Homo sapiens: one gene and its partner. The protein of the gene in region 2 purifies or fractionates together with the protein of the main gene of each other region. This does not show direct contact. Each region holds a gene or a part of one and is shown on either strand. Other genes may lie near its edges.

Region 1 (3,500 bases), on a different chromosome or scaffold from region 2:
TGGTATGTCAAACCTTTGGGGTTTGACTCAGAAACTGCTAACCTTTTAGAGGCTTTATATGTTGTACTGACCAAGGTAGGTTTGTATAGCAGCCCTATACTTTGGGGATCATTTGCCTACCATGGCATATATTTGAAATTGCTTTGGACAAGTTTTCTAGGCTATCTACCAGGTAGCTCATTAAACGTAATTCTTCAGATATGAGATAGTGGGCTTAGACCTAAGCCATACATATTTCTTTTCCCACATTCTGTTTAGGATGACAGTAATTCTGTTGTCTACCATTAATGCTACTACCTACTCCATAATTGCCTATTTAGCTCCTCTTTTCTTCCTTTTTATTTCATAAGACTGCTAGGAAGTGATTTTTTAAAATTAGGACTCCTTAAGAATAAACTTTTCCAGAAGCACGAGGTAGTTTGCAAAGGAAAAGTCTGCACTGTTTGCTCTAAAGAGCTTCTCCTCATTCCAATGTGTTTTGCTTCATGCTAGAAGCATATGCAACAGTGAATAAAAGCTTCTTTTTTTGTTAATCAGTCAATAAATTTGGCTAATTAGTTTCAGAGTTCAAGGAAGAAGCAAAATATCACATCTCTAGAAGTGTTGGGAAAAATATAATTTCTTTCTTTACTTATATTCACCTCATGGTAGGTTATATTGAAGGCTGACATGGAGAATGTTTACTTTTCTATTTGGCATAGCTAACTACACTTTGATACTAACTCCAGTTTTACTATTATTATTTTGGTTGGAAAAAAAATTCACTCTTTACGTGCTAATTTGTAATCTTGTTTTGTAAGAATTTATCCTACCCTTGAAACAGGCTCAGTGTAACTGTATATCCATTCTAGGCTTTCTTAATAAATCTTGAGGCTATGGGATAATCACATTTAAAGAATGGTTCCTGAAATGAAGTCAGTAGAAATGGCATGGGATAAGAGCAGAGCTCACACTTTTACAGTTGCAGTATTTCAAAGTCCCTATCCAGGTCACTCCAGAAAAGGGTATTGAAACGTTGAAATCTAAAGCAAATTTGCAATTTCTTAAGATTTCTAAAATTTACCAGAACAGTTTAGCCTGGGGGTTAATAGTTAAGTCTTGAGGCTAAGTTTTGGACTACCAAGGACCAGATGATTCACATGTAGGAAACAGCCAGAAGCCAACTGGAATTTTGTGTGCTAACTGTTCCCAGACAGCAGAGCAAGTATTCACTGAGTAGGGGTGTCCCATGACACTATTTCATATTCTACAGAAGTAAATCAGGTTTCACCAACTGAAATGTCTCCCTTTGAAAGTAGCAAACATGATTTGTATGTTAACTTAACTTTAATTTCCTGTGTAGTTTACACCCAGAGCAGATACTCATAAAGTATAAAGTAAAAACTTTTAACCATTATTAAACAGAGAACTTGCCATGTTGAGTGCCATTGTATTGAACTTATTCTAAAGGCTTATGCTAACCCATTTATAATTGGTAAAAATCAGAAAATACAAGATTTACATAAAGGTCATTTCAACTTTTAAGGTTACCAGTGATTGTATAAAAACATCACAATCCTAAATCCTCTCGTATCTCACCCCAAACCCCAAACTGGGGGAAAAAAAGTTAACTCTTTGTGAATGGAACCAATGTGCAAGATACATACTGCATTTTTAAAATAGTGTCTCAGCTAAATGGAAAACTGTTAAGCAAACATCCATAGTAAAACAAATAATCTTCAGTGAGATCTTTTTATAAAACTTCTTGTTTTTAGGATTCCCTTTGCTTCTTCCTTTGAATTCTCTAAAATAGGCAGCTAACGGATTATATACTTCAGGGTTTGGCTTTGTGCTAAATGTGGTTTTGTGTTTTGCTGTATTTCAAAATTTTCCTTCTGTTAAAGGAAAATATTGTGAATAACCACTGGTGTGTTCTTAGATCAGCACAAACCATGTCAAAAAAAATTGGAGATTTTTTTCCAATTTTCCTTCCACTGATCTTAGGCAGTAATAAACAATGGCATTTGTCATCTTTGGCACTTGCTTTTAGATTATAGTCCCACAGTTGCACTGCCCCAATTGTCTACCTTTGTGGGTACATTTTTGTTCTTTACTCCTAAGTTATTTCTCATAGAACCCAGCCTACTCTAGAATTTCAGCAGTGACATTGGAGAATATTTTTAATTTGCTGCAGTACTATGTCATATTATTAGTATGAATCTCATTTCCCAAAGGGTTTGTATTCTGCTAAAAGGAGATGCCAATGTTGAATGAAGTCTGAAACTCTAGTATGTGCATAGTTTGACGTGCAGCATGCACACCAGGCCTTAAGATGGGAATGTAGCTTAATGATTTTCTGTTTCCCATACCATTTCTAATCTTTTGTGTAATTTTCTCTTAACTGATTGCTCTGATATTGTAAACACAATAGATGTAGCTCTATCATGTCTAGCATAATTTAAAAAATCAGTGTTTTTAGGATTTGGGAAAATAAACTGTAAATGTTTATTTGATAGGTAAATATAGTTTTATTGTCACATGCTAAATATTGCATGCATATTGACTAATTGGAATAACCATTTACTCAATTATGGACAGCTTATTGAAATAGTATTGATTTAGAAAAAGTATATTGCATTTCTAAAAAACATCTACCAAGGTTACTCGTCTGAATATTGCTTTTAGCCGTGTTTTATAACATAGACGAGCAGTAGGGTCTGTTTATTAGCAAATTTCCTATTTGTTCCAATACAAACTCACTTTATTCTAAAGTATATTAATGAAACCAGTTCCTGTGATGTAACTGTAAGCCTTCTCGACTTAGACTTAAAAAGTGGTCACATAGATTAATTTTGTGACTTTTTAGTATAGACTGTAGCCATAATTCTCAAATATGAAATGGGACCTAATACCAGTATGTGATAAATGTTGATGTTTTCTGTGTACAAACACATTTTCTATGCATGTGTCTCTGTGTATATGGCATATACCTAGTAAGTATGTTTCTGTAAGTATGTGTATTTTATGTCCATTTGAGTAGGTAGGTAGGTTTTAAAAATACTAGTTAAAATGCCACAAGCATGAGTGTGATTGTATGTGCACTGTGTGTATATATATAAATATATGTATATGTATGGTTGTAAATATCTATGTATACATGTACTTAGTATGTGTGGTATCAGGATATTTTTTAAACTGTGATAATACAACAGATAGCTTTGAATGATCTGCCATAACATGTGGTAACAATAGTTCATTTCTCATAACATATATGAGGTATACAAAATTTTCTAACTCCAGATTGTAGTCATTTTGAGAGGTACAAAGCTCATAATTACCATGACAACATGGTAATGTCCATAGACATTTGTATCTGAATCCACAAGAAGATCTGAATCTAAGAAGGAATTACCTTTGACAATATTTTTCGGTAAGAAGTAAAACCTCTGGAGACCTATCTTTAAGATCTCTAATTGGAATTATAAATTATTTTTGGATTGCTGAGCTGAATCTTAAAAAGC
Region 2 (3,990 bases):
TCGAAGATGAAATGTAAATGATTTGTCTACCAAAGCTTGAATTATTTCTTCTGAACTAAAGACATCAACCTTTGAAGCAGTGCAGAAGCTGCAACAACTTGACACTACATAGTTTTAGATTATGTATATTTAATGCTGTCAACAATCAATGCAGAAGAGAAACAGATCTTCACTAAAGGTCTTTCAAAGATGAAAACAGAAGTATGCCTATGTACTCTCTTAATATATTCCCAGCATCTTTGGAAGCATAATTCTCTTGGCTCAAAAGTACTAGCAGAAAAGCTTTCCTGGACTACAAAAAGATACACTCTGCTTTCCCGACTGACAAACCTGGAGCTACTCACAAATGTCTTCTTAAGGGCAACACAGGTATATATACCAGGACTACAAATACTGCACTAAAGATTTTGCAATAGTTTTTTTTTTTTATCCTATTCTCATTCCACATATGAATTGAAAAGTATTTTCTAATCTTTAATCACTAAAATAGTTTTGATCTATTCTCTTATTGATGTTCCACTACACTTTTATATATGGTAACCTCATCTGAGAAATTTATTATCTTAACATATCTGGAGAAAAGGAAAATGGAGTACACCTTTACAGCAGTTTATGTCAAAGTGATAGTGAGACAACCATTAATATACGCAACTTCTGAATTAAAAAGGTTAAAAAGCTGCTCTTTTTTTAACCATAAGGCGAAGGAAAAAAATGTAAGGCTACCAGCCGTAACAAATTATTAGATTTTGAATTGCACTACAGTGGATGGCAAAATCGCAAACGTACAAAGTGCCCACCTCATAGTACAATCCTCAATTTGTTTAAGAAGTACCTTGCCCCTACCAACACAACCCAATGAGCGTATTCAGAAAGTAGATCCTAGGGGTAACTGTAAGGCAGAAGGATGACCCCTGAAGGTGCCTCCAAACATCTCCCCAATTCTAACTGGCAAAGAGACCACAGAGCAGAAATTACCGACGACACCACTAGCTTCACACTTAAGATCTATCTCTTGATTAGACTCTTGGAGGACACCTCTGGCCAAGACCGGAGGAGAAAGATGAGGTGGGGGATAAAAGCGGGAGAAGGTGACAGATAGGAGGAGAGCTGGGGAGGACCGAGCGGGTCAAGGGAGACTGCGGGGCTCCAGAAGCAGGAAGGGATGGGGGGAATACCAGGGGTTGAGAATGCCCCCGTAGCGGGACGGCGGCGCCCAGATGAGTGCCGCCGAGAAAAGGGGTGAGGGTACAGGCAAGATTGGGTGGTGCCCACAGTCCCCCCACCACCCCGCCTCACGCCCATCAGCCCCCAGACCCCGCGACGGGGCGGAGCCACTACGCCCGCCACAGCCCTTTCGCGCCGGCACCCGCCCCCTCAGCCTTCGGGTCCCGGGATGGTGGGAGGGGCGGCCCTCGTGGGGCTGGGTGTGTAGCCCGGCCCAAGCCCCAACCAGGAATGCTCTGCTGCGGGCGGGAGGATGAGCGGATGACCCTGCAGCCAGGGACGGGGGTTGGGGGGGGCGCTGGCTGAGGGCGGAGGAAGAGCCTCGGCACAGCCCCCAACGCCCTGGCCGAATCCCGGGCGCCCCTCTGCGGGCAGGCATTGTTGCCCCCGCTCTAGGCTTGCCTTCCCTCCTCTTCCCCCCTCCCCCCGCGTTGCCCCGGGCAACAGCGCCTACCGCCGGCGGCGCGAAACGCACCTACCTAGAACCTGACAAGCCCGAACCCCTCAGACTCCGGAGCCAGTCACCACCCCGCGTCACGGGGGCTGCCACAGCCAATAGGCGCCACTGTCACGAACCTCTGCAACCAATCCCGCTGCACTCCGGTCTCCGGGCACCCTCGAGGCCTCAGCCAATGGGCAAGAGCGGAAGGCGGGCGCAGCCGCCCGGCCCTCAGCCCCCTCCTCCACTACCTCCCAGGAGGCGGGGAGCGGCCGATTGGCCCGGTCCCCGAAGGGGCAGGACTTGGGCCCTAGGCTGGGTGGGCGCACGCTTAGCCCAAGCTGCGGGCCCTGGGAGTGGAGACGCGGAGCTGCGGTCGCCGCTTTCTGGGCTCGCTCACCAGCCCGGGTGGAGTCCCGAGGTCTGCGCGTTTGTGCCGCTCTCCCCGCCTCGGTAACCTGCTCCTCCCTAGCGGGTGTCCTGGGCTGCCGTGGTGAGATGGGGCCGGAGACGGACGAAGGCCTCACAGGAAACTTTGGGAGGCTCGCCTGGCCGCGGCCGGGAAGTGGCCGGACCGGCGATGATAAGCTGAGGCCGCCTGGAAGGGACTACTCGGCGGGTCGGCAGCCGGAAAGGAATTCGGAGAGTGGGGGCGGAGGCGTGATTAAAATGTTAAGTGTGCCCGGAGGGCGCTGGGCGATCCCTGGAGCTGAAATCTCCGGGAAGGGAAGCTGCTTTAGGGCCGCGAGGCCCCCACCCCTAAAATAGGCACTTTTCAGCCTCAGAATTGGTCACTTTTTCCTGTACGTTCCCACGTTTTACTTGTATCTGTTATTAACGTGGATTGCTTTAGAATGGTTTTCAGCAACTCCAGTTTACTCTGAGTCCCTTAAGGACGGGAACTGTCTTTCAATCCTGTACTCCCAGTGCCTGAGCCTGCCTAAAAATGTTAGAAACTCAATGCTGGAATTGTAATGGATGTTTAAAAGCATACAGCAGGTCCTGGGAGTGGCCCCCTATAATAAATTCTTACCTCTTCGGGAGTCTAGAATGCGTGGAGAACCCAAACGGGTCTGCTCTTCAGTGATGGCCGTTTCTGAAGCGTCCTTCACCAAAAGAATTTGGTGAAAAATGAGTAATGTGAACTACAAGATTATTACTAGGTGATCAGTAACAGTAGGATAGGTATGCGTCATTATTCGAGGGTGTGACCCTCCCATGTTCCTGTAGTAGACTTTTTAAGGCGGTGTTATCTTTTGCATTGGTTGAACCACATAGCGTCAATCCGGTATTTCCCCTCCCTCTCAAAAACTGAGTTACATAGGAGCCAAAGAAGAGTGGTGAATATTTTCTCTAAGCAGGGTTATTTATTTAACCGTAGAGAACAGCCCTACACATAAAAAAACATAAATCTTAAGTTGGACTTTTTTTAAGTCTACTGTTTTAAAGCTAAATAAACAAAAACCAACATAAAAATTTTAAATAAGAGGCTTAATTCTCCCTATTGAAAATGGAGGATGAGATTTCCCGTCCCTTTCTCTCCGAGCATTTGTCTTAGAAAACTTAAGTACTTTCTTAATTGTTAAGTACTTTCTCAACTCTTTGAAATGTGTATAAATCCACTTGAGGACTAGATAGGTCTTGTCAACTGTATGCTCAGTCAGGAATGTCTCTGGACCTTTTTTTTTTTTTTTTTTTTGAAATGCTGCACATATCAACGGAGTAGCATCCTTCCCTATCTCCCAGTTTCTGTGAGAGAGTAGGAGCGTAACTTCGGTGAGCAACTTGCTCCGTGTTGCAAAACTACCTTCCGTCATAAAGACAGGAGAAGTTTGTTTTTCCTCTGGATAAAACCAATTAACTAACACAGATGGTCACCCCAATTATTAAGTAAAGTTAATGTCACAAATGTCAGGTCCTCTTACTTGAGGACTAGTTATTGTTCAACTTGAAAACGTGTATGTAATGGGTCGTATATACTTGGCTATACAAAAGGGCAAGATTTCTGTCTTTGCAATCTCTTAGCAAATTGCCTGTGATGTGTATCACAGTCTCGTTTAATGCTTATTCAGTAATAAAAGTGTTTTGTCTACTAACGTTTGTGGAGAGGATTTCTGGGTTGGGAGATTTTGGTTTTTAATTATATTTTTCCAACAATGCCTATACCCAGAATGTTGGGATGACAAAGTTAAGGAAAGTAGTTACTTCGGAGTTTTTAAATTGTTCTCTAAAATGATGGTTAATGTTTCATATGTATTTCATAGTGATTGTTAAATGCACAAACTGTGGTTCTGTGAGTAAACTTCTTAAAATAGAAGTTAATTTTC

What was found. Proteins that work in one complex are often made in the same cells at the same time.
Region 1: the proteins of FER (region 2) and DNM3 fractionate together in Homo sapiens (co-fractionation; one study listed by BioGRID). This does not show direct contact.

Annotation. Positions count from the first base shown.
Region 1 is NC_000001.11:172,407,998-172,411,497, forward strand, and holds part of DNM3 (dynamin-3), read left to right. Parts: 3' UTR 1-3,500. UniProt on the Homo sapiens protein: Microtubule-associated force-producing protein involved in producing microtubule bundles and able to bind and hydrolyze GTP. Most probably involved in vesicular trafficking processes, in particular endocytosis.
Region 2 is NC_000005.10:108,746,707-108,750,696, reverse strand, and holds the start of FER (tyrosine-protein kinase Fer), read right to left. Parts: upstream 2,801-3,990; 5' UTR 2,697-2,800; intron 1,750-2,696; exon of another isoform or gene 1,704-1,749; intron 1-1,703. UniProt on the Homo sapiens protein: Tyrosine-protein kinase that acts downstream of cell surface receptors for growth factors and plays a role in the regulation of the actin cytoskeleton, microtubule assembly, lamellipodia formation, cell adhesion, cell migration and chemotaxis.